4 separate regions of the Homo sapiens genome follow, and regions 2, 3 and 4 are each linked to region 1. The links come from fine-mapping of genetic effects on gene expression. A gene starts in region 1. Each other region holds a variant in brackets. All regions are shown on one strand. Distances are between the middles of the regions.

Region 1 (8,106 bases):
ACCCAGCAATTCCACTCCTAGGTTTACAACCAAGAAAAATGAAAACTTGTGTCCACAGAAAATTTGTAAACAAATGTTCACAGTAGTATTATTCATAACGGACAAAAAGTGGAAACAACCCAAATATCCATCAATTGATGAATAAACAAAATGTGGTCTATCCTTACAATGGAATAGTATTTGGCAATAAAAAATGAAGTACTGATACATACTACATGGGTGAATCCTGAAAACATGTTAAGTAAAAAAGACGCCAGTCACAAAAGACCACATATTATATGATTCCATTATATGAGCAATCCAGAATAGGCAAGTCTGTAGAGACAGAAAGTAGATTCATGGTTGCTAAGGGCTAAAGGTGAGGATCAGGAAAGCTAGAGGAGAAATGGGGAGCAATTGCAAATGGGCATGGAATTTCTTTTTGGGATAATGAAAATGTCCTAAAATAGCTTGTGATGATGGCTCCAGAACTCTGTGTTTATACTAAAACCTTTGAATTGTATACTGCATTTGTTGTTTCTTTGTTTGTTTTTGAGATGGAGTTTTGCTCGTTGCCCAGGCTGGAGTGCAATGGTGTGATCTTGGCTCACTGCAATTTCCACCTCCCAGGTTCAGGTAATTCTCCTGCCTCAGCCTCCAGAGTAGCTGGGATTACAGGCGCCTGCCACCATGCTTGGATAATTTTTTGTATTTTTAGTAGAGACGGGGTTTCACCATAATAGCCAGGCTGGTCTCGAACTCCTACCTTAGGAGATCCCCCAGCCTTGGCCTCCCAAAGTGCTGGGATTACAGGCGTGAGCCACCATGCCTGGCCTGAATTGTGTATTTTAAATGGATGAATTGTATGGCATGTGAATTATACCTCAATAACTCTGTTTAAAAAAATAGAAAAACAGCCAGGTGCAGTGGCTCATGCCTGTAATCCCAGCACTTTGGGAGGCCGAGGTGGGCGGATCACCTGAGGTCGGGAGTTCGAGGCGAGCCTGACCAACATGGAGAAACCTTGCCTCTACTAAAAATACAAAATTAGCCAGGCGTGGTGGTGCATGCCTGTAATCCCAGGTACTTGGGAGGCTGAGGCAAGAGAATCCCTTGAAGCCAGGAGGTGGAGGTTGTGGTGAGCCGAGATCACGCCATTGCATTCCAACCTGGGCAATAAGAGCGAAACTCCGTCTCAAAAAAAAAAAAAAACAAACAGAAAAAATGACAGATAATTATGCTGAGGTCACAGCAGACCAAAAGCCCAACACAACTAGATAGCATGGGGGCTGATTAAACACAGTATTGGAATGCTGTTTTTATTCTCTACCTACTTTCCAGCTCAAACAAATAAACAAATACAAACACATCTGTGTGAATTTATACACAGTTCATTCTCTTACTGTGAACACAGATCTTTACTAGAATAATATATCTAAATTTGAGTTCTACAAATTAAATAATGAGGCAACAATAAGGTTTCCAAAGACGCTTTCAAAAGGAGAACTAAGAAAAGACTATAATTATTTAAATTAATTTCCATTTATTTTTTCGTTTTGGAAATGGAGTTTCGCTCTTGTTGCCCAGGCTGGAGTGCAATGGCATGATCTCAGCTCACTGCAACCGGAAGGCGGAGGCCTTCCAGGTTCAAGCGATTCTCCTGCCTCAGCCTCCTGAGTAGCTGGGATTTCAGGCATGCGCCACCACGCCTAATTTTGTATTTTTAATAGAGACAGGGTTTCTCCATGTTGGCCAGGCTGGTCTCAAACTCCTGACCTCAGGTGATCCACCCACCTCAGCCTCCCAAAGTGCTGGGATTACAGGTGTGAGCCACCACACCCGGCCTAATTTTATTTATTATTATTATTTTTTTGAGATGGAGTATCTCTCTGTTGCCCAGGCTGGAGTGTAGTGGCATGATCTTGGCTCACTGCAACCTTTGCCTCCAGGGTTCAAGCAATTCTCCTGCCCCAGGGGGATGGTTCTAGAATACCCCCTCAAATACCAAAATCTGAGAATGCAGAAGTCTCTTACATAAAATTGCACAGTATTTGCAAATAACCCACAAACATCCTCCTGCATTACTTTAAGCTGGGGTGTCCATTTTTTTGGCTTCCCTGGTCACATTGGAAGAAGAACAATTGTCTTGGGCCACACATACATAAACTACACTAACACTAATGATAGCTGATGGGCAAACAAACAAAACAAAAAATGCTAAAAATCTCCTAATATTTTAGTTAAGTTTACAAATTTGTGTTGGGCCACATTCAAAACTGTCCTGGGCTGAGGGTTGGACAAGCTGCTTTAAGTCATTTGTAGATTACTTATAATACCTAACACAATGTAAACGCAATGTAAGTGGTTGTCATGTTGTATTTTCTTTGTATTATTTTACTGTTGTATTATTTTTTATTGTTAGTTTTTGTTTTGTTTTGTAGTATTTTGATCCGCTGTTGGTTGACTCTGCAGATGCAGAATGCTCGGATAAGGAAGCCAACTGTACTCCCGCATACCAGCTACTTGCTTACTCTCTATTTATTATCTGTTATTCTCTATGCCTTCATTCTAGCATATGCTTCATTCTAGCATAAGTAATCACCTTTCTACATTCTGGAGTCAGGACAATATCTAGATCATTGCTCAAGAGTTCTGAACTGGGAGATTAAAAAGCTGGGCCAGCTGGGCACAGTGGCTCACGCCCGTAATCCCAGCACCTTGGGAAGTAGAGGCGGGTGGATCACCTGAGGTCAGGAGTTAGAGACCAGCCTGACCAACATGGAGAAACCCCGTCTCTACTGAAAATACAAAATTAGCCGGGAGTGGTGGCGCATGCCTGTAATCTCAGCTACTCGGGAGGCTGAGGCAGGAGAATCACTTGAACCCGGGAGGCAGAGGCTGCAGTAAGCCGAGATCGTGCCATTGCACTCTAACCTGGGCAACAAGAACGAAACCCGAAAAAAAAAAAAAAGGCTGGGGAGGTGATTGTGGGGAAAGACAGGTCTCCCAAAATGCCCTCTGTGTGTAGTTGTTCACGGAAACCACATAAACAGAAAATAGCTACAACAGCTAATTCTTACTAAGGTGTCAAGCGTTGTGCATAACACTGCCTAATGTGTGACATTAAACGTTTTCACCAGGTCAGCCACTTAATCTTCAGAAAACTGGTGGCCAACTCTGAGGTTTCACATTGACGTTTAATGGCTGTTCCTAAAGAAGTGCGTGCTTTTTAAAAAAATAGAGGATGGGAGGTAGGTTGGAAAGGGAAGATAAGCGGCAATGGAAAAATCGAGTGTGATTATTGCATTTTTATCAAATATGTCTGTCTGGATTATGTGGTTAGAATCACTGCAAATTTGGCTTCTATAAATACTTTAAAACTTTTTTCCAATGTTTTCATTATCAGATCCACTATGCAGGCTTTGAGTGGGCTGCCATTTAGTTCAGATATCAAAGTATTTTACAAGTAACTAATAGCATTTATTATCTACACGTGGAAAACTATAGCAAAGAAAGGTCAATCAAAAGTTGTGCTCTAGGTCATCAGATAAAATGAGATTAATACTGAAAAATTCTTCCACGAAGACCAGGGGTCCAGCTAAATGTGTGGTGGTGGGAAAAATGTTTATCTGACGTCCCTCTAAAGAAACCTCAGATGGGAGAAAAATGTCCCAGCCCCAGGAATGGACACATTTAGGTTTTTCCTTTTTTTTTTTTTTTTTTTTTTTTGAGACAGGGTCTCGCTCTGTTGCCCAGGCTGGAGTGTAGTGGCGCGATCTCTGCTCACTGCAACCTCCGCCTCCCGAGTTCAAGCGATTATCCTGCCTCAGCCCCCCGAGTAGCTGGGATTACAGGCGCGCGCCACCAGGCCCAGATAATTTCTTTGTATTTTTTAGTAGAGATGGGGTTTCGCCCTGTTGGCCAGGCTGGTCTCGAACTCCTGGCGATCCGCCCGCCTCGCGTTCCCAAAGTGCTGGGACCACAGGCGTGGGCCACCGCGCCCGGCGCACATTTGGGTTTTTCGTGGTCAGCAAAAGCACGACCACCCCAACACATAAATCTGGCGAATCATACGCAAATTCCCTCATGCTATATAACCTTCCACTGCTCTTCGTACCTTTGGACAGGAACATACTGTTATTTTAGGGAAGGAAATGGATCAGATACCTTGTCTCCTTCTTCTGCACTACCAAACACCCCAAATGGCGTCCCTAGCAATCAGATTCCAGAAACGTTTCCTCTCCTCTTGAAAGCCCACCGCTCCCTTCACCCAAAAAACAGAATAATCAGGGGCCTAATGAAGCTGTCCGGCCAACCTGCAGGAGAGAGCTGAGGAAGAACCACTTGCCGCGCCAGGAGCATCCCGCGCCGCACTATGGAGGCAGCCATCTTGGAGCGTACCAAAAGGAACAGCCAACGGGTTACGGACAGAGGAAGGGGCGGGGTTACAGCTCGACCTCTCGGGGCGCCCAGAATTGGACGAATCCCTTTTGTCGCTCTCGACGACAGGACCGACGCTCCGCCTCCTCGCCCCGGTTCCAGTAGTTGGTATGGTCCGAGACAGTATGGCTGCTGCATTTCGGCCCTCGAATCGAGTTCTCCTGCAGGCGCTGCAGATTTTGGTGTATCCTGGGGTGGGAGGCTCCGGCTCTGTCAGCTGCCGCTGCCCTCTCGGAGGTATCCGCGGCTTTAGCCTAGGGAAGGAGGGGAGGGATGGGAGAGAAGGGAGTGTTAGATCCCAGCTAGCATCTCTGTGGAGCAGCCACAGCTCCTAAGTCACTCACTGGCCTGGAGCGCACCCTCGCCCTCTAGTTGCACGTGGGTGCAGTGGTGACCACTGGGGGTCGTGGATACCCCCAGTGCCTGCAAATCGAAGGACTGCTGGGGTATTGACCTTGGGGCTGTAGTGCTCCCTCAGATGGGGCGACGTTCGTCTTCAGGAACATCCCTCCCGCCTTGGGTGACTTTTATTTATTTATTTATTTATTTTTGAGACGAAGTCTTGCTCTGTCGCCCAAGCTGGAGTGCGGTGGCGCGATCTCGGCTCACTGCAGCCTCCGCCTCCCGGGTTCAAGCGATTCTCCTGCCTCAGCTTTCCGAGTAGTTGGGACTACAGGCGTGCGCCACCACGCCCGGGTAATTTTTTGTATTTTTAGTAGAGACGGGTTTCACTATGTTGGCCAGGCTGGTTTCGAACTCCTGACCTCGTGGTCCACCCGCCTCGGCCTCCCAAAGTGCTGGGATTATAGGAGTGAGCCACCGCGCCCGGCCTTTTTCTTTTCTGCAGAGTTTGGAAGCAGAGGTCTTATGGAGTCTCAGTTCTGCTAACAATCTAAAAGACTTAACGGCACGTTTCTTCATTTTTCAAAACTATCCTCTAACATCTCTATGAAGAGAGTTAAATCTGAAGATGCTAGTGAGTGATAGTAAAAATGTTTGTCAGGCATTACTTTAATGTAGTTTACATACATTAATTCCTTTTCTCTAGACAACACCCAGCAAGAGAAGTACCATTCTTTTCTCCATTTACAGAGGAGGAACAAGGTTAAGTAATTTGCCCAAAGTCAGAGGGAACTGTTAGAGGTGGGATTTGAACACACCCAACAATAGAAACCTGCTCCTAACCACTTCACTGGACTGCCTTTCTGTAAATAAATAGCAACTTTTATTGTTACCTTGTTACTGCAGCTCACAGAACTCTGTTAGTGCGTGATTCTTCGGCCACGCTTGGTCCGTTTTATCTCATGCACAGCCAAGGATCCTAAAGAAAGGATGATGTTTCCCAAATCTACTAAGCTGTGATCAATGATTTCCATGTATCTCAAATGTATTTTGAGTCCACATCTGAGAGGCCTTAACCCCCTCATTTCACAGAGGACAAAACTGGGAGTTCCAGTGGTCATGCTGCAGCTTTTTCCACTACACTGTGCTTCTCCCTGGATAAACCAAAACTAAATATGCCTGTTTTGCATTTAAATGTTATTAGTTTTTTTTTTAAATGCCCTTGATACCCTTAACCGATGGCAAATGCCCATTTGTACTTCAAATCCCAACTTCCTGTCAACCAGTCCCCACACAGGTTTATCACTAGCTACGGTTAATCACTAGCTTCTTTCACACACACAAATAAAACCTGTTTTGCTGAGGATTTGCATTCTCTGGTAGTTCAGAAATTGTTTTTCCCAGGATTTATATTTGTACAGTTTGTACAGTTATATTTGTACCTGTCTAATGGATTATCTATAATAGATGTTAGAGGTAATCCAGCTCTATTCATGTTATTTGCTAACTTCTAAAACAGTCAAAATGACTTTACTTTTTTCTTTCTCTGATTTTTAGCTAAAAGATACCTACTTACAGATAATGTGGTGAAATTAAAAGAATTTCAACAAAAGAAAGTGGCTGTTGCATGTAATCTTTCTGGCACTAAAGGTAATAGAATCTATTTTGTTAATTCTGTCATTTATCTGTCATTTAAGTTTCTCTGTCTTTATCCCTATTCAGTGTCTCCTTCAGTGACTTTATTATGCCTTAGAAAAAGTTGAGACCATTTATTGTTAGTTTCATAGTGAACTCTTATATTTATCTTGCATTTCATACTTTGCTGCTACAACGTCTACAGCTCTCCTCTTATTCCTTCTCTTACGATCCCAGAGAAGTATTAAAGCTAGTGCTGCGATTGGTCTTGTCTAAATCTGTGCCATTAAAAGTGAGGTTTGAGGACCAGCGGCATCAGCATCTATTGGGTGGTTGATAGAAGTGCAGAGAGAAAGGCCCCAGATCATTCATATGCACAATAAAGTTTAAAAACTTCAGATGATTGGCTTTCAAACTTTTTGATGTAACCTTCAGTGAAAAATGCATTTTATGTTGCATCTCAGTACACACAAACATATCTATATATAAATGAAATCAAATGAAACAAAACAGTACTATGTGTGATGATACATTTGGTATTTTTCACTCTGTGCTAGAAAAGTCAGTAGGATCAAAAATTTCTTAAAAAACAAGAGAAACCTGACTACCAAACCTAGGATTTGGCTGGGCATGATGGCTCATGCCTGTAACTCCAGCACTTTGGGAGGCCAAGGCAGGAGGATTGCTTGAGCCAGGGAGTTTGAGATCAGCCTGAGCAGCGTAGACCTCATCTCTACAAATTTTTTTAAAGTTAGTTGGGCGTGGTGGTGCATGCCTGTAGTCACAGCTACTCCAGGGACTGAGGTGGGAGGATTGCTTGAGCCTGGGAGGTCTAAGGTGCAGTAAGCCATGATCACACCACTGCACTCCAACCTGTGTAACAGAGTGAGACCCTGTCTCAAAAAAAAGATAAATCTGGGATTTGCTTTGAAAAAAAATCCAGTGTGTTTGAGGATTGTAGTGTAGAGGAAACATAATTAGCAAAATATTGATAATGATTGAGGCTGGGTAATGGCACTTAGTGAGGGGGATTATTATCCTGTTCTTTCATTTCTTGGGTATGTTTGAAAATTTTTGTTATAAAAAGCTACAAACAAGAACACCACCCTAGGTCTTTTTCCCTTTCAGCACCTGAAAAATCTTGTGCATTCATTCTCTCCCTCCTGCACATAGAGTTCTTCCCAGCATTTCATACCTTTTATTGTGTGTGGATGCAGCAGTGGTCCCTGGGGGTTGTGGATATACCTCCTTGATCCTCCTTTATGAACACATCTAAGACTTTCCTTTTTTTTTTAATAACTCTTGGTGTCCCTACTGACTTTTTCAACCATAGACCCAGCTCTCCTTCCTCTCACTGCCAGATGTTTGTGAGCTCCTGATTAACACATTAACATTCTCTTTGTTTTGGTTTGTTTTTTAAGAGACAGTCTCGCTCTGTCACCTAGGCTGGAGTGCAGTTGGCACCATCATAGCTCGCTGCAGCCTCAAACTCTTGGATTCAAGCAATCCTGCTTTAGCCTCCTGAGTAACTAGGACTACAGTGCCACCATACCGCCTAATTTTTAATTTTTAATTTTTTTTTGTAGAGATGGTCTCACTGTGTTGAGGCTGGTCTCGAACTCCCAGGCTCAAGCTAGTATCCCGCCTCAGTCTCCTAAAGTACAAGCGTGAGCCACTGCACCCATCCTGATACTTTCTGCCTCCATTCCC
Region 2 (8,106 bases), 25 kb after region 1:
AACATTTACACTCTGTACTATAGCCATACTCCCAACTTTTGAGTCCTTTGTATAGTTAAATAGGTTGTTTGGTGCTAGTTGTTTTTCCAGTTTTGTCTTTGTTGGCTGAAGTGAGTATTTTAGTAAATTCTTTGGAGGAATGATATCCCCTGAGTTCTTGGTATTTTAAATTATTTTATTTGCCTGTTGTTTTTGTACTTGAACTACAGTTTGGCCAGATTTACAATTTCAAGGTGACATTTTCTTTTCTTGAGGTACTTTTAGGCATTGCTTTTCTGTCTTCTAGTATGGAATATTGGAGAAATCTAGTATGGAATGTGGAGAAATCTAACGCCTGCCTGATTTTTTTCCACTTGATTGACGTGATGTTGTTCATTTTTCTCATTTCTATCTTCTATATCCATGGAAATATTTTTCAATTAGGGTTTCTTCATCGGCCAGTTATTTTCTTTTCTTTTCTGTTTTTTTTTTTTTGAGACAGAGTCTCACTCTGTCTCCCAAGCTGGAATGGAGTGGCACGATTTCGGCTCACTGCAACCTCCGCCTCCTGGGTTAAAGTGATTCTCCTGCCTCAGCTTCCTGAGTAGCTGGAATTACAGGCATGCGCCCAGCCAAATTTTTGTATTTTAGTAGGCGTGTGCCCAGCTAAATTTTTGTATTTTAGTAGAGACAGGGTTTCACCATGTTGGCCATGCCCAGCTGCTTTTTGTATTTTAGTAGAGACAGGGTTTCACCATATTGGCCAGGCTGGTCTTGAACTCCTGACCTCAAGTGATCTGCCCGCCACAGCCTCCCAAAGTGCCGGGATTACAGGCGTGAGCCACTGTACCAGTTATTTTCTTAATTTTGTTCTACTGTGTTCCTTTCCTCTTTTTAAAAATATCATCTTTATGAGTGTCATGTGGTGGTTCTTTTTTGACTATTCATCATTGAAAAGTGTAAGTTTCAGGCCTAACACTGTGGCTCCTGCGTGTAATCCCAGCACTTTGGAAGGGGGGAGGATCACTTGAGGCCAGGAGTTTGAGACCAGCCAAGACAACATAGGGAGACCCTGTCTCTACAAAAAATAAATAAATAAATAAAACAGGTGCAGTAGTACCTAGTACATGCCTGTAGTCCTTGCTGCTCAGGAGACTGAGGCAGGAAAATAGCTTGTGCCCAGGAGTTTGAGGCTGCAGTGAGCCATGATTCCACCACTACCCTCCAGCCTGGGTGACAGAGCAAGACTCTGTCTCTAAAAAATAAAAATTCTGGCCAGGTGCAGTGGCTAACACCTGTAATCCCAGCACTTTGGGAGGCTGAGGCGGGCAGATCATGAGGTCAGGAGATCGAGACCATCCTGACTAACACGGTAAAACCCTGTCTCTACTGAAAATACAAAAAAAAATTATCCAGGCATGGTGGCGGGCTCCTGTAGTCCCAGCTACTCTGGAGGCTGAGGCAGGAGAATGGCGTGAACCTGGGAGGCTGAGCTTGCAGTGAGCTGAGATTATGCCACTGCACTCCAGCCTGGGCAACAGAGCGAGACTCCGTCTAAAAAAAATAATAATAAAATAAAATAAATAAATAAAAATAAAAATTCAAAAATAAAAGAAAAACGTGTTTCTTTTAGACCGGTCATTTGTAGATTCATGTCAGAGAAAGAGAGAACAACAGAGCGGGACACCAGAGCACTGTTCTAGACTAGCAGGATTTTTCTTCATATAACCCAGAGTTTTGTCTACAAGTATGCACAGGCCTCATTTCTTTTAAGTCAACAGAAGTAGGCACTGAGGTGGTTTTTGGTACGCAGTCTCTTCTCTGCTGCTGCTGTCTTAGGAACATACTGTTTCCTATGAGTATGTCTTGCCTATGGAAACGCTTGACTAGCCTCATCTCTGCCACCACAGGATCCACGGAAGTTCTCTTTACTAGTCCTGCGCTCTGTTCTCATCATTGTAAATAGGAATTTAGGTTTTGTACTTCAGGTTGTGCCCTTACCTTTGAGAGCTGTACTGTTGTAGATTCTTTGTGAGATATAGAGCACTGTCTGCCTCTGACTGCTTTCTCCTGAACCCTGCCAGCCTCCATTTCCAATGTTTCTGGCAGTGTTTCCAGCTGTGCTGTGGCTTGAGGTTTCTATGTTCTAATTATGTATGTCAAAGACAGGCTTTGCACTTTGTTCTTCATTCCTATTTTTTTAGAAGCTGATTCCAATAGGAGAAGGGGAAATACCAACTTTATGCCTGCATCTTAAAAACTGGACTCAGGCAGGTTGTTAAAACATTCAACAATATGCGACTGGATGGAGAATTTTATGGAATGTTTAGTTTTGATTTCCGAAACATTTTATCTTTGTGGACTTCAAAACCCTGAGGTCACCTTAATAGGAATATACTGCCCTCTCTAAGTGATCTTTTACAATAACATTAGTTCCTATGATATGGAATATGATTTGTTTCTCTTCCTTCTAGAATGAGATGGCAAAAGCTGTGTCCATTTTTTCTCAAATCATGAATCCAGAAAGCATAGCCTGCATTAATTTAAATGTAAGTGATTTCTTTATGGTTTAAGGTAAGCCTTGAAATGTATTATAATAAATGTATTATAATAAAATTATACCTAAATTTTTTAGCTGTATACAATGACTTGCTCTCCCAAGGTTTTCATTCAAATCAATAGTCATTTATTGAATTCCTCTCTGAAAATTACAGTATCACCCTTGTAAGAAGAGTCAACACAGCTGTCGCTTCCAGGAGTTTGTAAACAGGTTGGAGAGAGGTAGATATGCTCATATATAAGACATGGCTAGATGCTGAAGACATGAGACGTGGCTAAGAAAGCTGTAGATGTAGGGAGGAGGAGGGGATGGAGACAGATCCTCCAGGCCCTTTACCAAGCCTTGAGAGAAACCCATGTGCCAACTGCGTCTTATTGGTAGTACCTAACTCATGGCATTGTTGCAATTAATGAGCTTATATACTTATGGTACACAAAATAGTGCCTGACATGTGGTAAGCATTCAGTAAATGTTATCTATTGTCATTCTTATTATGTTGCCAGTATGCCCATGGTCCTCTTCCCCATTAACTTACCTGGGCCACCTGGGTCACTTATTTGGGACCTTGTGGTCTGGGTCAGCAAGTGGCTGCACACATATCACCAAGACATGCAAAACCTTAATCCCTAAAACTAAAAGCATAGGAAAAAAAATTATCTCAGATTCACCAGATTCACGCTAATAATAAAGTTTGAGGCATATTACTACTCCCAGAGTTTGAGCAGTGTGTCACAAAACCTTCCTGGACCAATTATAAAAGACTGTCTTGTTATTAAGGACACCATAGCCCCCATTCAGCCTGCCCATATTGAGACTCCTTGTATACTGTGTCTACTTGTGTGGGGGGAGTTGCAAAAGAAAAAAACTTTCAGGAGCTTATAGTCTCCTGAAACAGTCAGAGGGTTGAGATGAAGAAAACATTTTCAGAAAAATGGAAATGTGTAAGCATTAGCATGACACAAACTAGGAAAACAAGTCACAATCAATGGAGTATTCCAAGATGAGTAGATGAAGGGGGTCGGGTTGGCCGGCAGGAGCAACGTGAGGGGCCCTTAGGGCGGGAACCTACTGAGCAGTGCTCTAGAGGAGGACAGGACTGTGGGGTTGGAGGGAATGAGGTGGAGGGTGTTATTTGTTGGGATATTGGTTTTGGTGGAGCATCTATTTAAAAGAATATGAACTGTGGCTGGGCACGGTGGCTCACACCTGTAATCCCAGCACTTTGGGAAGCCAAGGCAGGTGGATCATGAGGTCAGGAGATCGAGATCATCTTGGCCAACATGGCGAAACCCCATCTCTACCAAAATACAAAAAATTAGCCAGGCATGGTGGCACTTGCCTGTAGGTCCCAGCTACTCGGGAGGCTGAGGCAGGGGAATTGCTTGAATCTGGGAGGCAGAGGTTGCAGTGAGCCAAAATTGCGCCACTACACTCCAGCCTTGGCGACAGAGCAAGACTCCATCTCAAAAAAAAGAATATGAACTGTGAATTGTAACCACCTCTTACTAGCTCTGAGTCCTTAGGTTAATTTGCCCCTGGAAACCCCCCAATTTCCTTTGATCTGAAACAGTAATAGTTATTGGGGGAACCTGCCCCCAATAGTCACGTAGGTTCTTTTCTATTTTCCCTAAGTGTCGGCCAGTCTGAGAAATAAAGGGACAGAGTACAAAAGAGAGAAATTTTAAAGCTGGGTGTCCGGGGGAGACATCACATGTCGGCAGGTTCCGTGATGCCCCGTGAGCCATAAAACCAGTAAGTTTTTATTAGTGATTTCAAAAGGGGAGGGAGTGTATGAATAGGGTGTGGGTCACAGAGATCACGTGCTTCAC[A/G]AGGTAGTAGAATATCACAAGGTAAATGGAGGCAGGGCGAGATCACAGGACCACAGGACCAGGGCGAAATTAAAATTGCTAATGAAGTTTCGGGCATGCATTGTCATTGATAACATCTTATCAGGAGACAGGGTTTGAGAGCAGACAACCGGTCTGACCAAAATTTATTAGGTGGGAATTTCCTTGTCCTAATAAGCCTGGGAGCGCTACGGGAGACTGGGGCTTATTTCATCCCTACAGCTTCGACCATAAAAGAAGGCTGCCCCCTGAAGTGGCCATTTCAGAGGCCTACCCTCAGGGATGCATTCTCTTTCTCAGGGATGTTCCTTGCTGAGAAAAAGAATTCAGTGATATTTCTCCAATTTCCTTTTGAAAGAAGAGAAATATGGCTGTGTTCCGCCCAGCTCACCAGCAGTAAGAGTTCAAGGTTATCTCTCTTGTTCCCTAAACATTGCTGTTATCCTGTTCTTTTTTCAAGGTGCCCACATTTCATATTGTTCAAACACACATGCTCTACAAACAATTTGTGCAGTTAATGCAATCATCACAGGGTCCTGAGGCGACATACATCCTCCTCAGTTTAAGAAGATGACGGGATTAAGAGATTAAAGACAGGCATAGGAAATCACAAGGGTATTGATTGGGGAAGTGATAAGTGTCCATGAAATCTTAACAATTTATGTTCAGAGTAAAGACAGTAAAGACAGGCATAAGAAATTATAAACGTATTAATTTGGGGAACTAATAAATGTCCATGAAATCTTCACAATTTATTTTCTTCTGCCATGGCTTCAGCCAGTCCCTCCATTTGGGGTTCCTGACTTCCTGCAACAAATAGTTGCTATCTTTTTGTTGTGGGGATTAAAATAAATTATGCATATAAAATAGTTAGCATAGTGCCTGGCAGGTAGTCTGTTCAATGAATATTTGCTAATACTAATAGTATTTTTTTGACATGAGTTAAATTAAAAGGAATATTCATTTGTACTGAATCCTAGAACCTAGTGAATAGGAATTATGCATAACTCCAAACTTCTGAAAGAGTCATACTTAAAGATAATAATGCTTTTCAGTTCTGCCCATAGTAGTTATCCTCAAATGTCATCCCACACCAGTGCCCAGGTGACTTTTCAGAGAATGACTAGATGAGTATTTATGGTAAATTTTGGAGAACAAGGTCAGGCAAGAAGTGTGCAATAAGAATTCCTCATATTGGACCTCAACTTTACTTTTCAAAATGCTTTTACATGAGAGAAAGGTGAGCCCAAGGAACCAGAAAGATGGAGAGAGTGATAACAGAGAACTTGAAAAAATGAAATGGGTTTGTAATGGAAGAAACAAAATACTAGAAAAATATCGACAGAGACATTTTAGTTTCAAAGGGCATAAACTTGGAGGGCATGAACTCAACTATATACACCTGGTAATGGATTTGATATGAACTGATGAATGCCATAAGAAAGCAGGGAAGTATGAGGGCTCAGAAATGAGTTTATAAGGCATTAATGGTGAGGCAGAGGAAGCACCAGAAAAGAGAGGGAAGGACTTGCAGCTGTGTAGAAATCCAAGCGGCTGAGAGCCCTCCCTGTCTTAGCCTGCTGCAGGTAGCTCCTGTTCATCTTGGGGGCTGAAGCAGAAACTACAGGTCTGAGCAGGTGGGTCAGCCTGAAAAGCTCACACGCTAAAGCAGGTCTGGGAGGCCAAGGTTGGCAAAGGTCCAGAGTCCAGAAGGTCAGGTCATTTGAGCAAGTGATACCAGTAAGCTAAACAGACTGGGAAGCCTGGTCTTCCAGCAGGCATACTATGTCTCTGACTTATCTGCTTCCTACTGGATATGGACAGCTCTGGTATTCCAGTATATAATTGCTTCTGAGAGAGAGAATGGCCTTCAGATGTCCCATCTATCATGATGGGACAGAATAGAACTGCTGGGATTAGCAAGATACTCTTCCACTAAAGCTAAAGCTATCCAAGTCTCTGATAACATCAGGAAGGAAAGAAAGGAGAAAAGGGGGAGAAGTGTTTTACTTGGATCATTGATCACTTTTCCTAGAATTGAAGCAAGGTTGAGGGTTTCAGTAAGAATTGGTGATAAGAAATCAAACAGTGAGGTAAGCAGGTTTTAATTTATCTAAGGTGTCATGCTTGGTACTTTAGATTTGTTATACAACTCTATCAAAACAATTTTTCTCCACATTATAGATGTGGAAAATGAAGATTCAAGGGTAAGTAAATTACCTTAGTTCTCCCAACTAAATAAATAGCAGAGTCAGGGTTTTAACACCAACAACTCTGTCTGACTGCGAAGCCTAGGGTTTCCCCGCCACTCCAGACCTACAGAGATGAAAAAGGTGCGTCTCTTTTATCCAGGACTGGGATTAGTGGCTCCTCTTGAATAATAAAAAGAACACAAGACTGGATGTCAAAAACCATGATCCCACTAGTGCATGTAAGCCACCTCTGGATTTAGATTTCTCATCTCCTTCCATCGTGGCCTATCTCTCACAGTTACAAGAATCTGGTAATGGGCTGGGTGCGGTGGCTCATGCCTGTAATCTCAGCACTTTGGAAGGCTGAGGTGGGTGGATTATTTGAAGTCAGGAGTTCAAGACCAGCCTGGACAACATGGTGAAACCCCATCTCTACTGAAAATACAAAAATTAGCTGAACGTGGTGGTGTGTGCCTGTAATCCTGGCTTACTTGGGAGGCTAAGGCAGGAGGATTGCTTGAACCTGGGAGGCGGAGGCTGCTGTGAGTGGAGATCACACCATTGCACTCCAGCCTGGGCAACAGAGCGAGACTCTGCCTCCAACAACAACAAAAATAATCTAGTAATGATTTGATTTTTTTTTTTTCCCCCAAATGAGAAGGTGCTTTGGTGGAGCTAAACATGAGCCTGCTGAGCATGAGGCTGTCCATTCCCAATAAGAGGAGCAATGCAGGGCATGATGAAAAAAGTGTGTGCTTGCCCACCAGGCAGCAGGAACAGCTCCTTTCCTCTGAGGGCTAGAAAGGAAAGTCAGCCTATGGATGCAGTGGAATGGGCGTGTTTCAGGCAAGGACTCCATAAGTAACTTTGAAGTGATACTGAGTATGAATCATCCTCTCTGAACTGCGTCACAGAATTACCCACTGTCGGGAAACTTAAAGATAGTTTCAGTGTTTAAAAATTCTCAGGAAATTCTTTCAAATGTTCAACCCAAATTTCTCATGTTGCAATATAAGCCTATGTCATCTTCCTCGGGGATGATGAAAAAGATATGGTTGCCATTCTCAAGTTTAGTAATCTTTTAGATTCTAGGTCTCTGTTAGTAGAGCACATTTTAAAAAATGACTGCATGGACCTTAGCTTCTCCAAGGCTGACTCATCTACTTGAAATCCTTAAAGGCAGCTTATTAATTATTGAGAGATGGAAACTGACAGATAGGCTGAGTAGTGTCTGTTTAGTCAGTATTCACAGAAATCAATGAAACTTTTTTCTGATATACTTTAAAAATTAATGCTTTATGCTAAAATCTTTTGCTACTGTCAACTGAAATTTGAACTTAACAAATTTTCTCCCTGACTTGATTGTTTTATTAAATTGCTCCTGTTGCCAGTGTGACCCAGAGGGCCCAGTTTCCTATTTTCCCAGCTAATACGTGATACATACTGCAATGATTTAACAGATCTCATCAAAACACATGTATGTTGACTCTGCCTTTTCAGTCTGAATTTAAACTTCTCAATCTCAAAC
Region 3 (8,106 bases), 91 kb before region 1:
TTTCTACTGTTAGAATGCAAAGAATGCAAATCTGGCTGAGATTGGAAGGAATATTTCCCTGGCAAAGGATTTATGTATAATTTTGTGTTTTCAATTACCAGTACTGACTACAGCAGGGTTAAAACAAGTATAGTGAGAAATGTATATCCTTTGTTATAAACGTCTGGCAAAGAGCATAATGATTCACTAGACATAAGTATAAGGTGACAGGACAGACACCAGACCTGACCACCTCAGGACTGAAATGAAAGCCAAGGGATGACTCTAGCAACCAGAGTCAAGAAAAAACAAATATGTGGCTCTACGGTGACCTTTAAGCCATGGTAACAAGACAACCAATGTCCTTCTCAGGACTCACACTGGCTGTAAAAGCTGTTTGGACAGGAGCAGACACTGCAGCTGCCTGTGGGGTGTAAGGCGCATCATGTCTCCTGGAGTTCGAGCAACCTCATACCATCAAGGGTCCTAGGTGACCAAGAGGCATGAGCTTTGGGGCTGGTGGGAGAGTAGTGTTCTCGTCCTGGTAAAGTGAACACCTTAGAACTTTGAAAGAAACATCTGACCGAGATCTCATCAGCATCACACATTCACACAGAATGGTTTAAGATGGTTCCATCTCTGGTCCCCAGATTCATTTCTTGAGGACTTTTATGGGGAAAGATGCTATGTAGCCTCTCAGGACTACATGGTATTACAAAAACACCAAACATATTTAAAATGAAATTTTACCCTCTCTTGAGTTCCCACTGAGATTTTTTTTTTTTTGGTAAGGAGGTGAGGGACGAGGCAGTGGAATAGTTTTTTTTTCCTAGACAATGAACTATAAATCAATGTTAATCATATTTTCTAGTGCCTTTGGTCAGGAGCATTGAAAATGTTTGTGGTTTTGCATTTTTTCGACTTGATAAATACCTATTCTATAGACATATAGAAAGTAGGGGTAGTGGAAAGACAATGAAAACAAATTTAAAGCTCAGGTTATGGGAAACAGATGGCTAAATCTCACTGCCTTAGAGCTGAAGAACATACCGCTTCTCTACACAGCTTTATGTCTTCTGGGGAGGCAGCCACTTTCTCCATCACTTGAAGGGCTCTGTCAAGGTAGCCTGGTTTCCATATCAGAGGCATGTTGTGGTACACAGCCCGTAGCCCTTGCTGCAACTCCACCTTCCCTGTGGCCAAAAAGAACAATAAAGAATGCTCAGCCATGTCTTCCCACCATTTCTAAGACTGAGGACCTGAAGGCCCAAGTGAATGTTCACCTGGCAGCACTAGAAATAGAGAAGGATCATTTTAAATCTGTACCAACAGACTCATCTCATTCGGTGACACTTCAGATGGATAATGACGAATGTGGTAAAATTCACTGTATCCATTTTGTAATGCAAAATTACATGAACTTAGTTTTCTTCTTTCTCATTTGGGCTGAGGATGTATATATAAACCACTGGGCTGAGGGCAATTGAGAGGCTGACATATATGGCTCTAGGTAAGGATACTCTTAAAAAACAAGTCAACTGAGATACAATTTTTGTTTCAAGAACAAAATCTTCCCCAGAAAAAGAAATCTCACAGCTTTCCCACTGTGAAAATTTTGTCAACATCCGACAACTTTCCCTGCTAGGAAATGTCTGTCATTTTTTGAAATCCTTCAAAACACCCAATCCTTATGAAAAAAAAAAACCCCTCATCTTTCCCTTCTTTCCTTTGAGTTTCGTCAGTTTTAAAATAACAGAGTTCTCATGATCTTTTTGGATCTCTGGACATGAATGTTTCTCTGGGTACCTCAAGCCATCACACCTGGAGTTCAAGATGTGGATGCTAGACAGCAGGGTCTTCTGGTAGGGAGATGGCTGTCTGTATTCCTGTGGCACAGAACCTGGCTGCACTAATGACCAAAGTCACCTTGAGCTGCCCAGTCTTAAATCCACCTTCTTTTATCTTTCCTGGGAAGGAGGATTTGGGAAAGCCAGAGTAGGACACAAACAGACAAAGCTTATCAGGCGACAGCTAATTTTAGACCTTTAAGGTGCTTGGGGCTGGACTGCAGTTACATTCTGGGCAGCTGCTTCCATCAGGGCTGAGTGAGGCTGCACGGCAAATGACACAATGAGAGCAAAGAGCTTCTGATCTGATGGCTGCTATCACAAAGAACCAGGGCCTCTGCTCACAAACCACAACAAAGTACATATTCTTTGCCCTGTCACTTCTGACCAATTCAGGCTGTATGACAGTCCTGAATGCTGATCTGAAAGCAAAGGAAAATACATGTAAATCAATATCAAAAGTAGGTGGCAAATAAGGAAAAAATTATTTTTAAAAAGAGTGGTCAACTCCTTTGTTAGTCTGATAGACAGTCAATAAACTCTGAAGTTCCTGAGTTATTATATCAGAATCAGCACCAAGAATAACACACTACATTCTGTTGGCAAAGATCAACTTCAAAAGCAGTCAAACTGCTATAACTTTATGATTTTTAAAAAACAAAGGTAAGCAGAAGCAATGTATAATTGAGAGATGCCTAACTACTTAAGAGACGATGGGAGAGTAATGAAATAACATAAATTTAATAAACGTCTGTAAATCGGGACGTTACATTTAGGTTGAATCTTATTTACCCAGATTCCACACAACCCAGGTTCCGAGGCCACTCTTCAGAAGGCTTTGTCCTCTTAACCTGTCTGATTTTCAATGCAATCAGGGCACAAGAGGAAAGCCACCACTGCACCTCCTGGTGCAATCACATGGTACCCATGAACCACTCCACTTTTCCTGAAGTGCTACTACTTCTGCTCTTAGTTTATCTTCCCTTACCTGAAAACAATACCAAAGATACAAGTTCAACTCTAACTCTTAATTTCTTACCTTCTGGACTTTAGATCTAAAGAGACAGAAAGATCTTTGTTAATACTGGAAAAGATTCTACTAGCTAGTCTCCCTAAACAGGGCCAGAACATCCCTTTCTTTATCCCTTCTTCAGACTGATTACCACTGAATATTATTACCTATATCCACCAGAACTAGTTCTTGCTTTGCCAGTGATGGCAGGTTTTAAGAACCCTCTTTACTCTCTTATGGAGTAACTGTAAGGCCATCAAGGTCTATTTTTATGTCTAAAAACGAAGGCTAATTGGATTTCACTGGTAAATTTAAATCAAATTACAATTTTATTATGAACTGGAAGAATGCAACAATTCTAACCATGAAGAACAGTATTTGTAAGGATCATTTAGCTTACCAAGAAGTGCATAGCCATACAACTGGGAACTGAAACCCACTGAGTTCTTTTGTTTTAGGCCTGGAAGCAAAAGGGATGCACCAAAGTTCCTCTCCTCTTCCCACTGCAACAGAATATACTGGATCATGATCCATCTAAGCAATGAGTACTTTATACAAAAATGTGACTTTCAATGACATGAGGAAAAGAACATGTTATAGCATTAAGTAAACAAAGAAGAACAAAGCTATATATACATTATAATCCTAATTTTGGGATTAAAAGGTACTTACGTCAAAGAAAAATATAGGAAAGAAATACCCTATATGTTAATGGATTTTTGGGCAGTGAAATTATGAGTAATTTTGGTTTTATTCCCTGTATATCTTATTATTTTCCAAAAATTTGGCAATGAATAAGCGTTTCTTTTACAATCAGAAAAGCAAAACAAAACACAAATAAAGAGTACACTTTAAACCGACACTCGAGACAATCAAGATTCAACATGCTGTCAGCCCCACAGTCACTCATACTGCTGTGGCCTGATGGAACAAGCTTTTGAATTTTAAAGAATTTAGCAATGATAAGACTCCTTCAGAGTGTTAGAATAAATACCACTATTAAATTGCTTTTAGATAGATTTGTGCTTCTCAAAAACAAATTAGGCAGTCAGAAACAGTGATCGCTTCTTTCAGCCCAGGGTGCAAAATTACGCTTTAATGAAAATGAAGTCTTTAGAGACATGGGGGAAACAAAGGGCAAAAACACAAGCATTGCTACACCTGCTGCAGACTAGTAACAACGATGACTGGAGGACTTCCTGGCAATGCGGCCAGGGGAGAGCCTTGGCAACTCCCCAGTGGGATCTGTGATCTTCTTGGTGCCACATGAGTACACAGTGGACAGAGCTGGAGCCCTAACTCTGGCTTCAAAACATAGAACACTAAGCTCAGGTTGCCCTGCACTGGTCTCTGCACCAAGAGATTAGGGAGGAAGCAGAGAATGAATAATGTCTGCAGGCTGCAGTTACAACCACGGGCAAGTGAGGCACCCCAGATGTTCATAGGCACCCAAACCTCTTTACTGTAAGTAGGCTTTGTGCAATACAAGTGTCATTTCTTGAGGCTGCTCCCCAGTCTTTGAGAAAAGCAAAGACCTCAGAAGAAAAACAACGCCCCCCCCCAAGCACTTCTGCAGCACAGGTAAATAAAAGAGCTGGTAATTAAAAACCAGGTCATTTTACTTTCAAAACTAAGAAGTTTGATTTTCCCCACCTAAAACTGCATGAAAAGT[A/G]GGGCCGACAAATAATAAATAAGGAGCCTTACAAACATTTTTCCCCCTGTAGGGAAAAACATGAGCTACAGTAACAGGCTGTAGTAGGGGTTAAAGCCAAATGAACACTAAAATATCTAAGCACTAGATACCTTTGATGTGTTAGGAGTCGAGCAGGGGTGGTGACAGTGACTGGGATGGTTATACTTCTAAAGGACTTCAAAAAAGATGAATGAAAACAAACCAATGACTGTCTTAGAAATTTTCTGATCATTGTCTGGGGCTGCTGGAACTACTGCTGCTTATATGAAGCTATTCATGTGTCAACATAAATTAACAGATATCTTCCAAGCCTTTAGTTTCTTTTCTTTTCTTTTTTTCTCTTTGGAGACAGGGTCTTGCCCTATTGCCCAGGCTGGAATGCAGTGGTGTGATCACAGCTCACTGTAACCTCAAACTTATGGGATCAAGGGATCCTCCCAACTCAGCCTCCTGAGTAGCTAGGACTATAGGCATGTGCCACCATGCCTGGTTAATATTTTTTTTATTTTCAATTTTTGTAGAGATGAGGTCTTGCTATGTTGCCTAGCCTGGTCTCAAACTCCTGGCCTTAAGCAATCCTCTTGCCTTGGCCTCTCAAAGTACTAAGATTACAGGCATGAGCCACTGCTCCTGGCCCAAGCCTTTAATTTCTATTGTAGACACTATAATGGACTAATTCAGGTGTGGTTTCATCAATGCCTTCAAAGTTTTTCCATTTTATGCTTTGCCTCTTCCATTAATACAAAGCAAATCCTCATTCTCCCAACTTCCCCGCTTTATTCTCCACTTCATAGCTAGGCATCTTAAAAGAGTTGTCTATACCTCTAATCATTCTACAATCCATTCCAATTTGGTTTCCTGCTCCATTACTCATATGGAAACAAAGGTTACGATTTAGTGCCTCCCGTGCCACTAATGCATTTAATTGACTTTTTTTATTCCTCATCTTACCCTACCCCTTTGGAAGCATTCTACATAGCAGACCATCTCTTCCTGTGGATTCTGTGGTCCAACACATTCCTGATTTCCCTTCTTTTTGCTTTCTAGCTCATTTGCAAACATTTACACATGGAAGTATAAGTCTCCACAATTGTATCTCCAGTCCAGATCTTTCCATTAAGCCCCCAGTTCCTTGGTGAAATCTCGTGACTGTCTCAATTTCAAAATGCAACATGTTCAGAGTCACATTAATGATTTTTCTCATAACATCCAGTCTTTTCCCAAAGTTCCCTTTTGGAAACAACACATGGAACACCTTGCATCCAGACATATGAGTCAGAAACTGAGGAGAGAATATGTGACCCCTGCTTCCCTGCCTCATCTTGTTATTTACCTTCCAAATATGCCCATTGGCTACTCTCTAACTGCATCATATCCTGGTCTCTATGCTACCATTATCCCTTGCTGAGATTCATGGTAGTCTCTCGGATGGTCTGACCATAGCCATCCTTGCCCTGCTCTGATAGCTTATCCACAGTACAGCCAGAAGGACCTTATCAAAACACAGATTTGATTATTATATGCCCTCTGCTTCTAACTTTTCAAGGGCTTCTCACTGTTTTTAGAACGAACACAAAATGGCTTAGTATGGCCTACATTCTCCAACCCTCTCACCCCACGTCCTCCCTACCATTTTCTGTTGTAACTACACTGACTATCTTCTTCCAGCCCATTTCTGCTCACTAAGTTTTCTGCCACAGGGTATTTGGACATGTAATTTCCTCTTTTTGGACTGTTCTTCCCCTCCTTAGCCAGTTAATTACCAGTCATCCTTCAATAGTAACCTAAGAAATATTTCCTTAAGGAAGCCCTTCCTAACCAATTTAAGTTTAAAATACAGAGAAAACTCCCTATAATATAGTCTTTTCTTAGATTTCTCCTTTGCAGTGTTCATGATAGTCATAGTTTTATATCTCTGTGATTGTTTTGTTTAAACTCTGTGTTCTTCCTAAATTGTAAGCAGAAAATGTTTGCTCACCAGTACATAACTAGCACTTGCCAATGTATGGAATTTGTATGTGTTCAATACAGTATATTTAATGAATTAATAATGAATGTGGGGTATATCATAAGACTATGACACTCATCTTAGAAAGGCATAACATGCCATCTACTCTTTAGAATGTGGTCTGGACTAAATGACCTCTTCAGTTCCTACCCAAACTGGGATTTTTGATGTTTACAATTGAGGTTAAGGGCAGATGGCAGAGGCAGACTAACTGGCTTTACCAGGTGGCTTCGTTACCTACTAGCTGGGGGGTTACTCTGTAACATCTCTAGGCCCCAGTCTCCTTATCTGCCTAGGGTTGTTGTGAGAATTAAATGCATTAATACATTTAAAACAAGAACACAGCCTGGTGTAAAGTAAGTGCTACTTAAAATATCAGTTATTGCTATTGCTATTCTTAGGACAACAATAAGCAATGATTAAACATGCGAACCTAAGATCTGAAACCAAAACTTGATATTCTAGACTTTCCAAAACGGAACTGCCCTAGAGAAACCTTAGGAAAATACTGATACAAATGAAATAATTAGTATTTAATATCCCAGGTAATGGTCAACGTTAGCTGCCTCACTGCCTCTTTGACATGCCATGTCCAGCTCTCAGTGACTACCAATGACCCATTTCTGAATGTCTGAGGTGCACTCAGCCTAGCTCAAGTTTCAAAATATGCACGAGGACTTTCTTTTGAGATTCTCTCAAGTGGAAGAACCTCCAATTCCATTTGTTAGAAACCAGTAACCAAAATGTATACAATAAACACACATTCCTGGTTGTGCCTGGCCACAGAGCTGCAGACACCTTTTTCCAGCTTTTGAGAGCAAGCCCCTGCTTGCCTTTTCTAAAGTTCTTAATACTGCTTTAGGGAAGATCACTTACACTGAAGTCTGTCTTCTTTGCCAGGCAATGAAATAAAACATAGAGGGAGAGAAGTTGGGTGGAAGGCACTTCAAAGGCTTCTTGCATCATGACCTCAAAAACCACAGATAAAGCATCTAGCAGAAGATGAAAGTAAAAAAGAGAGGAAATTAGTTGTAGGTAATATTACTAAATCTCTATTTAACTATAAACACTCTTAAAACGTGGGGCATGGTTTAAAAAAATGCAGAATTAAGAAGTAAAATATGCGGGCTTAGGCTCTGGCCCTAGTTCTTCCACAAACAAGGTTTTTCCTCAGCCTTTAGCTTCTATTTTACATACCAGAACGAACTAAATCAGGTGCTACTGCACCAACGTCCTGAAGGACATTAAATAAACCACTCATTTCTCTTGGCTCCCAGTATCATCGTCATAATGATAAAATACTATTTGCTTCACCTACTTCAAGAGAATTTTGGACAGTTCAACCAGAAAATGGCTCAAACTGTGATGCAAATTTAAGGCATCATGTCTACCAGCTAGAACAGCTAAGGCATAAAGGAGACACATATATTCTCAAGGTCACCCTGACAGGCAGAGCAGACAGGCTGGTCTGACTGCCCTATTCTCTGCTCTGGTACCTTCTCACTGTTAAGGCAGAAGAGGACAAAATGCTAAAGGAAACCCTAAATCTCAGGTGTTATTTCAAAGA
Region 4 (8,106 bases), 100 kb before region 1:
TGCTTTGAGGCAGGTGTGATATACATATGTAGAAGAGAATTCTGATATGATACACCATGCTCACCCCCCTATTTTTTCCCCACAAACCTTCCTCCTGGTGTCAATTTTGGCTTACACTACACTTCGTAGAAATCCAAAGAGGCTTTCTTTGGCATTAAACTACCTCAGCTTAGGACATACGGCTTCTAGCATCTCAGAATTTCTGCTGGGAATTATACCTCAGTTGGAGGACTTTCCTTTTAACCTAATAAAAAATAATTCATTCAATAAATGTTTATAAGCCCCCTCCTCATGGTAATGCCTGTTCTGTGTGTTGGGCCACAACCATGAACAAGACACACAGAGTGCCTGTCTTCATGGAGTTTAAAGTCTAGGGCCAATCTCACCAATTAGTTCTAAATAATTAATTCAGAATCCATAAAATGCTTAAGGGGTTTAACACTCCAGGGGGTGTTGCAGACTTGCTGCAACAATGGCTCATAAAAAAAGCCTGGAGAAAGGGATAGCCTGAACTGAGAACCACTGAAATACCCGAATTGACCTGGCAGATCCAGGAGAAAAGGATTACAAGTCTCAGGGTAGCCTCCTGGAGTGGATACATATATCACAGGAAGCCAGAAGACCCAGCAGAGAACTATGTTCCCTCGAGGGCCAGGTGGCACGCCGCTCATCGAGGCCATTGGGAATGCACTGGGGAAGGGCACTGGTGAGCAGGCACCTGTGTCACCAGGTTTGGTAGCAGACTAGAACTCACAATAGAAAAGGAGGTTATGCTTGGTGTTGTTGGCAATAGGGATGATGGGTGTTGAAAATCTCCCCCCTCAAGCAATAGAGGCTAGGCGGTGGTGCTTCCTCCCTCCTTTCCTTTTGCAGATGTAGGACCTCCACCTGAAGGCTTTCCTCACCCAATCCCAATTCCACCTCCTTTCATTTTTCACAGGCTTTATCCCCCCAAAACTGCTTTCACTGTTACCTCTGACTCTGATGCTGATCTGCTTCCTGGGGGGCCTAAGTGACACAATGAGCTTCTAGAAATGTTTTTCATACCTAATTCTAAGTTCTCTGTTCCACCACAGCAGCTGCTTTTCCTTTCCTCAGTGGTTAAAATAAGAGAGTTTCCCAAAGCTCATCAGATACCTGCAGCAAAAAGAAAAAAGTAGAATGCTGCAGTATATTTTCAGGGAAGATGCACAAAAGTAAAGACAACAAAGAATGGCAAAACTAATTGTTTTCAGTGTGAAAAAAGGTTTTAATCAACTTTTTTGGTCTCGCTCTGTTGCCCAGGCTGGAGTGCATTGGCTCAATCTTGGCTCACTGCAACCTCTGCCTCCCAGGTTCAATCGATTCTCCTGCCTCAGCCTCCTGAATAGCTGGGATTACAGGTGCCAACCACCACACCCAGCTAATTTTTGTATTTTTTAGTAGAGACAGAGTTTTGCTATGTTAGCCGGGCTGGTCTCGAGCTCCTGACCTCAAGTGATCCTCTGGCCCGGCCTCCCAAAGTACTGGGATTACAGGTGTGAGCCACTGTGGTATAATCAACTTATTTTCAAGGCCTCTGACTACTTCTTGTAGAATCTAAACCAATCTTCTCACACACCTACCTGATTCCACAGCCAACGAGAAGGTCGGAAAACAGGATGCAAGGCTGGGTGCCAAGGCAACACAGCACTGAGGGGAGGATAATACCTTATCATTTTTCTTTCTTTTCTTCTTTCCACCGCCTTGCTTTTTTTTCCTTTTTATGGCCAAGGTAAGTATGGGATGTGGGCCAAAACAAGTTTAATCTGAATTGTTCATTTTAGCTTAATTTAAAGTATTTTCTCATGAACACATCACACAAGCCTCTGTGGAAAGAGGACCCCAGGGCAGCTTGAGGCACTCATATGTGACTAATTAATGCACAAAGCAGGCAATTAATTCCCTTCATTAGAGTTTTTCCCATCACTGGGCTTAAAGTGATCTTCCTGTGAACTCCCACATACATTAACTGTTTGTCTAACGACACCTTTCAGCTGTGTATTGACGGGTGTGGATGTGCCAGCCTCACTAGAATCTAAGTTATTTGAGGGTAAAATCTATAGTTTATTCATCCTTGTAAACTCCATAGCACTTGTATAGTGCCTTGTACACAGTATACACCGAACACTTGAGAGCTTGCGAAAGCAGTGCTGGAACAGACAGTAAGTCTGCTGCAGACAGCAAGCTTATAAGGGGTGGTCAGTGGTACCAAATGGAGCAGAGCATTTAAAAGGAAAAAAAAAAAAAAAGATCACTGTAGTTGATGACCATGTTGTGCAGCAGAGTGGTAAAGCTATAAGCCAAATTCTCAGCCTCTAATGAATGAACAATGAGCCAGTAAGTGTAGATACCCTTTCAAGAAGTTTGGAGACATAAGGAAGGAGACATAGCATGACAGCTTGACTGATGGCAGGGTAAAGGATTTTTTGCTGTTAAAAAGTGTTGAATAAGGTCTTGAATAAGACTGTAGACTTAGAAGAAGAAATCAACAGAGATGCTATAAGACGGAAAGGGAATGCTTGAATGTGTAGAACAGGTGGGCAGGTATGGGCCAAGGTCACAAATGAAGAGCCTAAGCTTTGAAAGGAGGGAGGGGATACCTATTATTTGAAAGTAGGAAGGATGATGGAGAGAACATCTGCTTGTAGTTCTGAGGGCAGGGCTTCGAGCTAACGCAGAACAGAAAAGCTATGGAAGCAAAAATGAGAGTCAATTAAAGGAAGGACTATTGAGTTGAAGAGAACAGCCATAATTTTGTAGAAGAATCTAATCAGCCTAATATTATGACTTTATATATCTACACTTAGTAAGTCAGAACCAAAGAGAAAATGAATGGTGGTGTTATCAGTTTCCTAGGGCTGCAGTAACAAAGTACCAAAAATGGTGTGGCTTAAAATAACAGTTCTGAAGGCTAGAACTCAGAAATCAAGGTGTCTGCAGGGCCAAGCTTTCTCTGACGGCTCTAGGGGAGAAGCGTCCTTACCCCTTCTAACTTCTGGTGTTTGCTGGCAAGCCTTGGTGTTCCTGGGCCTGTACGGTCACATGCTCATCTTCCCTCTGTGAGTCTGTGTGTGCAAATTTCCCCTTTTAAAAAAACACCAAATTGGATCAGGCTGACCCTGATGATCTCACTCTATATTTGATTACCTCAGTACAAACTTATTTCCAACTAAGGTCAGATTCTAAGGGACTGGGGATTAGGGATACAACTTACCTTTTTTAGGGAACACAATTCTACCCATAATAGATGGGTGCAAGGATGTAGGTCGAAGGCTGGCAAGTGAGCCTAGATAAAGGGAGTGAGAGAAAATGAAGATGCTAATGAGAACATGGGGATGGCTGACCATGGGGCCCACACTGGAAGAGAAGCAGATTCTGGAGACCAAGAGTTTGGGTGATGGGGTAAAGGCTAAGGATTAGCAGGCAGGAAATTACAGAGCAAGTTGGTTCAGCAGCAGTCATGGTACGAGACGAGCCTGGGAGAGTGGGGACTTCAGGATCTAAGATCTCGGATTCGTGATGAGGCTGGAGGTTTGGCTGTGACTATGGCAGGTCAGCTGCAGAAGGTAATTTGTTACTGGGAGATGATCCAGTTGAGGTAACCTCCAGAGGCCAGGGCACCAAGAGCAGTTTCTCCATCCACATGGAAGAAATATGGAAGATGACATCAGGGAAAGGGACAAAGGACAACTGTATTGGGAAGAGCCAATTGTGAAGGAAGGCAGGAGAGTATCCTATAGCTCAGGAGATAAGGACATGGGGAAAGGGCAGAATATTTGGAGGGGAAAGACTCCAAGAGTCCTGAGAAATGGGGCACAAGTGTGGAAGGAATCCTGAGGAGGAGGGAACATGGAAATTCCTGTGGGACCACAGTACAGTGGCAGAAGTGGTCTCTTTTGGTGAAGAAGAGAAGTAAAGTACATTGGGGCTGGAGAGGGAGGAAAAATGAAGGCAAAACGATGAGCCAAAGCCTTAACCAGATACTTCATGTTGTGACAGTCATTAATTTACTGGGCAAAAGTTGCCCTTTTGTTTGTGTTGAATGTTCCTCTTAATGTAATGAGAGAGTGGCTGAAAAACTCCTGTTGTTGGTAAACCAAAATGTTGGAACTGACTTTTGGTCACGGCCCTCTACCTAAGTAAGATTCAGCAGCTTTGCTAGTCTAAAGGGCCCTGTGTTGGATCCTGACTACTGCGGTTCTATATGGAGGCCACAGGCAGGGAGAGGAGCAGCAGGAGAGCTGCTTTGTTTCATAAAATGGGGACACTGGTACCTCCCTCATAGGGCTGCTTGGGTTTTCAGCCTACAGTTAAGTCCTTAATAAATATTAGTGGTGGCAGTTATCATTATTACAATAAATCCCATAGTTTAATGGGGGAGGGTTTAAAGTACACTCCTCAAAATCATAGTAACAATAATGAGTCCCTCTCCCTCCTCCCTTTCCCCAAAGATAAAGAGTACACTAACATGATCCCGGAACATTTATTTCCAGAGGCTTTTGATAGAAGAGCACAATCTTGAATAAAATTACACCACTGTACTTAAGGGCAACACTACATAGTAAGCAAAATCTGCTCTGAACCCTTTCACAGAAGAGACACTTCAGAAAGGAATTTTACATCTCCTGACAGTTTTACAACATTCATACCTCTGATGCACTTCAAGCCCCAACCCATCTCTCATTTTCTAACTTCTTTAACAGAAATGTGTGTTCACAAGTTGTGTGTGC[A/G]TGCACATGTGCCTCTGTGTGTACACAAAAGGCTCATTTTACCTACTTGATAAATGAGCTGAGACGATGTTTTGGGAAAAAAAAAATTGGAAAAAAAATGTTACCCCAACACGATGGAGAAGCCAATCCAAAAAAGCTTCATGCTAGAGCTAGCTTTCTCCTCAGAAACTTACATCCTAAAAACATCCCTATGGGTGCCTAAAAATGGAAATCCAGTGAGTTCATGGCCTTGAGTTCACTCCTGTCCTGAATTTCTCCCAGTGCAGGTCCAGAAGGGCGAGATGTGGCAGAAAGGAGAATGTGGGAATGTGTGAGTATCCCACAGCCAGCTCACAGTGCAGCTTGCACTCAGAAAGGAGACTCAGGGACACAAGGTCTCAGGATGCACAGTTCACCTTGGCCTCATGTACCTGGGCTGGGGAGAGGGAGACCATTCAAAAGCCTGTGCTTGGCCGGGTGTGGTGGCTCACGCCTATCATCCCAGCACTTTGGGAGGCTGAGGCGGGCAGATCACTTGAGGTCAGGAGGTTGAGACCAGCCTGACCAACATGGTGAAACCCCATCTCTACTAAAAATGCAAAAATTAGAAAGGTGTGGTGGTATGCACCTGTAATCCCACCTACTAAAGGAGGCCGAGGCAGGAGAATTGCTTGAACCTGGGAGTCGGAGGTTGCAGTGAGCCAAGATTGCGCCACTGCACTCCAGCCTGGGTGACAGAATGAGACTCTGTCTCAAAAAACAAAAACAACAAAAAACAAAAGCCTGTGCTTCAACCTGACTCTTCAGCCTTGGTTTCTCCCAGTACTGTCACTGGGTCTTAGGAACTTTAATGCTCATAACTAATCCCTGTGCCCCAGGAACTCCATTATGAGCCTCAAGAGTCCTCCTTAAGGTATTCAGCTGGTGACTTCAGTCTGACCACTAGCCACCTGCATAGTTCCATAGCCCTTCTTGGCATCTCGATGGGCAGTCATGGTGCCTTGCCATGTAGGGCACATAGCCTGCTTTAAGAAAAGAAGATGGGTAGAGGAAGCTGAGGCTGTTGTCCAGGCCACTGCTGAGTCCTGGCACGGGGTTGAGTGAAGTTCTTGTGAGACAGGTGGGGCCCTGGGGGACCCTATTAGGCAGATGCCTTTGCTGCTTTCTGAGCCTGGTACTCCTGCTTCGCTTGCTCCCTCTGTTGCTGTTCTCTCTGGATCAACTGTACAAGGTCTAGATGCCACTGCTGCAGATTCTGCTCATAGGTGGCGATGTCCTCTGCTTCACAGGTGGAGAGTTTTTCCTTGACAAGCTGGGTGGTCAGACTTAAAAGACCTTCTGACTCAATTTTGCCCAGAGCTTGAAGCTTAGAATGTAAGGCCTGTTGGAAACAAATGGGAAAAATGAGAAGAAAGGTAGAGAAGTGAGAGAAAGATACAAAGAGGAAAAACTAGCCCTGAGTGACTGACTTTAGATTTGAACAAAAGTTTGCTGACTCGTAGTTTAGTCCTCATTCTAGTGGCCCAGAATGAAGTCACCTGCAAAATAACCACACATTTTGCTGGTAGAAAAAAACCATTTTGTTGGGAAATGGTCATGCTGCCTTTCATTCAGGTGCTGTTAGCTGTGGTTATTTTTTTCAGCTCAGCAATTTTGCTAAGATGCACCACATGTGATTTCTCCCCTTTCACTCAAAAACAGTAAATGGAACTCCATATGCTGTGTCTCCCTGTGTAATTTCTTGTTTTAAACCACAAAGACAGCCAGCCTCTAACAAATCTATGTTTCCACCCTGACCTAACCAAACCAAGCAGCAAACACCAAAAATAAGAATTCTAATATGCAAACAAAATGGCAGAGGCATCTGATAACTGGAGCAAGCCCAACCATACATGTGCCTTCGGAATAACTGAAACAAGTATTTGCCTTTCTGGCATTCCTCTCAACAGACGGAAATCAGTTCAAGGAATAGCTCCCCTGAGTGCCTGCACCGTTAGAAGCGTCTGCCTGCTGTGCTCCACTGCATTGGGTCTTAGGAACTCTAAGACTGCAGGTCAGTCTTTATGTATTGCCTGCTTACAGCTCCATCTGAAATGGCACCTTGGTTTGGTTGGTGTTGTGCTCCTGGAGAAGTAAGTATTAAAAACATTAATCTATTTAAGTACTTTAAGATGTACTCTCTCATTAGAGAGAGGGCCACTTACGGGGCCAGCTGTAGCTTATACCACACATCCCCATGTTCCACAAACAAATGCCACTCATTGGCACAGGAAAGGAGGCTTGCTTAACAGGGTTGGGGGTGGGCAGGGTGCCTAGGCTCCAGGAGGGGCCAGAGGCCTAGTGTGAGAGTCAATCATATAAAAATGGCTCCCAAACAAATGACCTCTGACTAATAAAAATCAGGCAACAGGAAGAAAAGGAAATGTAAAACGAAAATGATCTCTCTCTGACAACGCTCTCCATGTGGGGTTTGAGGCCAACAAGACAGCTTGGGACACCAGAATGAGGACTAAACTACGAGTTGGCAAACTTTTGTTCAAACCTAAAGTCAGTCACTCTGGGCTAGTTTTTCTCAGCTTTGCTGTCATCTAACATGAGAAAGGTAGTCTCTAGCATCCAGAGCTCTTGCGAGGAGAAATGCACTGGTGCCCAACATGTAGTTAGTAGTCAATAAATACTTGCCTTTTTAAAATTTTCATAAAAATACATTTGTAGAGGAATGAGGGCTGAGAACTTAATGCAGGCACAGGTTTCTATTCTCTGAGGCAAAGTATATAAGAAACAAGAGAAGGAAGTTTTAATTTTTAAGAATGGTATGGCAACCTTGGTCAATGTGAATGCAATGAATCATAATATATGGGGCTAAGGAGATTTTTTTCTTTAGCCTTTGTAAATACACAAGATTAAGCAAAGAGCCTGAAGGGGCAGGCATGCAAATTCTCATCCCAGCTATACTGCCAATTCTCTGGGTACCTTGGGAATATCGATTAACCTTTCTTTCTCAGTTTCAAATTATAAGAGGGAAGTTGAGCAATGACTTTACAGAAGTACTGGGAGAAATTGCTGCTAAAAATACAACAGGCTCCTCCTTACAACACTGGGAATTAGGTTCTAATTACTGAAAATATTTAAACATAATAATCTAGCAAAGTTTACATCTTATCAGTACCAAAATGACACAAGTTACACAAAACAAGTGGGAAAGTTTTTTGCTGTACCAAGAATTCCCATTCTGACAGCATTTTTTCCCCCTTTGCACTAGACAAGAATCAAAGCAGCTAAGAAGCCAAGAGTTCAAACACTGAACACGGTTCTTTCCTGACACTGATCACAGAGCATTTTGGGATGTACAGAGTTAGAAGCTACCAAAGGTAGC

Direction of the effects. Positions count from the first base shown, and alleles are read on the strand shown. Sizes are in standard deviations (SD) of each study's normalised expression. Not every link is listed here.
For the expression in prefrontal cortex of the gene that starts at base 4,387 in region 1, A is the high allele of the variant in region 4 and G is the other (moderate effect, 0.52 SD a copy in GTEx).

Evidence for each region. PIP is the estimated chance that this variant, and not a neighbour inherited with it, causes the effect.
Region 2: its variant is fine-mapped to the expression of MRPS27 in whole blood (TOPMed, PIP above 0.99).
Region 3: its variant is fine-mapped to the expression of MRPS27 in fibroblasts (GTEx, PIP above 0.99).
Region 4: its variant is fine-mapped to the expression of MRPS27 in prefrontal cortex (GTEx, PIP above 0.99). The same link has a PIP of 0.9 or more in anterior cingulate cortex, cerebellar hemisphere, cerebellum, cerebral cortex, nucleus accumbens and skeletal muscle.

Annotation. Positions count from the first base shown.
Region 1 is chr5:72,315,854-72,323,959 of GRCh38, forward strand. It overlaps MRPS27 (mitochondrial ribosomal protein S27), which reads right to left and starts at 4,387. Exons shown (of 11, transcript NM_015084.3): 1 at 4,296-4,387. The coding sequence starts at 4,368. PTCD2 (pentatricopeptide repeat domain 2) reads left to right here and starts at 4,520. Exons shown (of 10, transcript NM_024754.5): 1 at 4,520-4,656; 2 at 6,319-6,411. The coding sequence starts at 4,530. RefSeq lists enhancers at 3,438-3,979, 3,980-4,520, 4,119-4,448, 4,509-4,718.
Region 2 is chr5:72,340,509-72,348,614 of GRCh38, forward strand. PTCD2 (pentatricopeptide repeat domain 2) reads left to right here. Exons shown (of 10, transcript NM_024754.5): 8 at 2,454-2,528. Among named protein-coding and RNA genes, the nearest start is that of PTCD2, 24 kb to the left of the region's middle. The variant A/G (reference allele first, on the strand shown) is at 4,369.
Region 3 is chr5:72,225,028-72,233,133 of GRCh38, forward strand. It overlaps MRPS27 (mitochondrial ribosomal protein S27), which reads right to left. Exons shown (of 11, transcript NM_015084.3): 7 at 7,416-7,531; 8 at 3,239-3,341; 9 at 1,030-1,172. Among named protein-coding and RNA genes, the nearest start is that of MIR4803, 60 kb to the left of the region's middle. The variant A/G (reference allele first, on the strand shown) is at 4,511.
Region 4 is chr5:72,215,038-72,223,143 of GRCh38, forward strand. MRPS27 (mitochondrial ribosomal protein S27) reads right to left here. Exons shown (of 11, transcript NM_015084.3): 11 at 4,366-6,111. The coding sequence ends at 5,872. Among named protein-coding and RNA genes, the nearest start is that of MIR4803, 50 kb to the left of the region's middle. The variant A/G (reference allele first, on the strand shown) is at 4,752.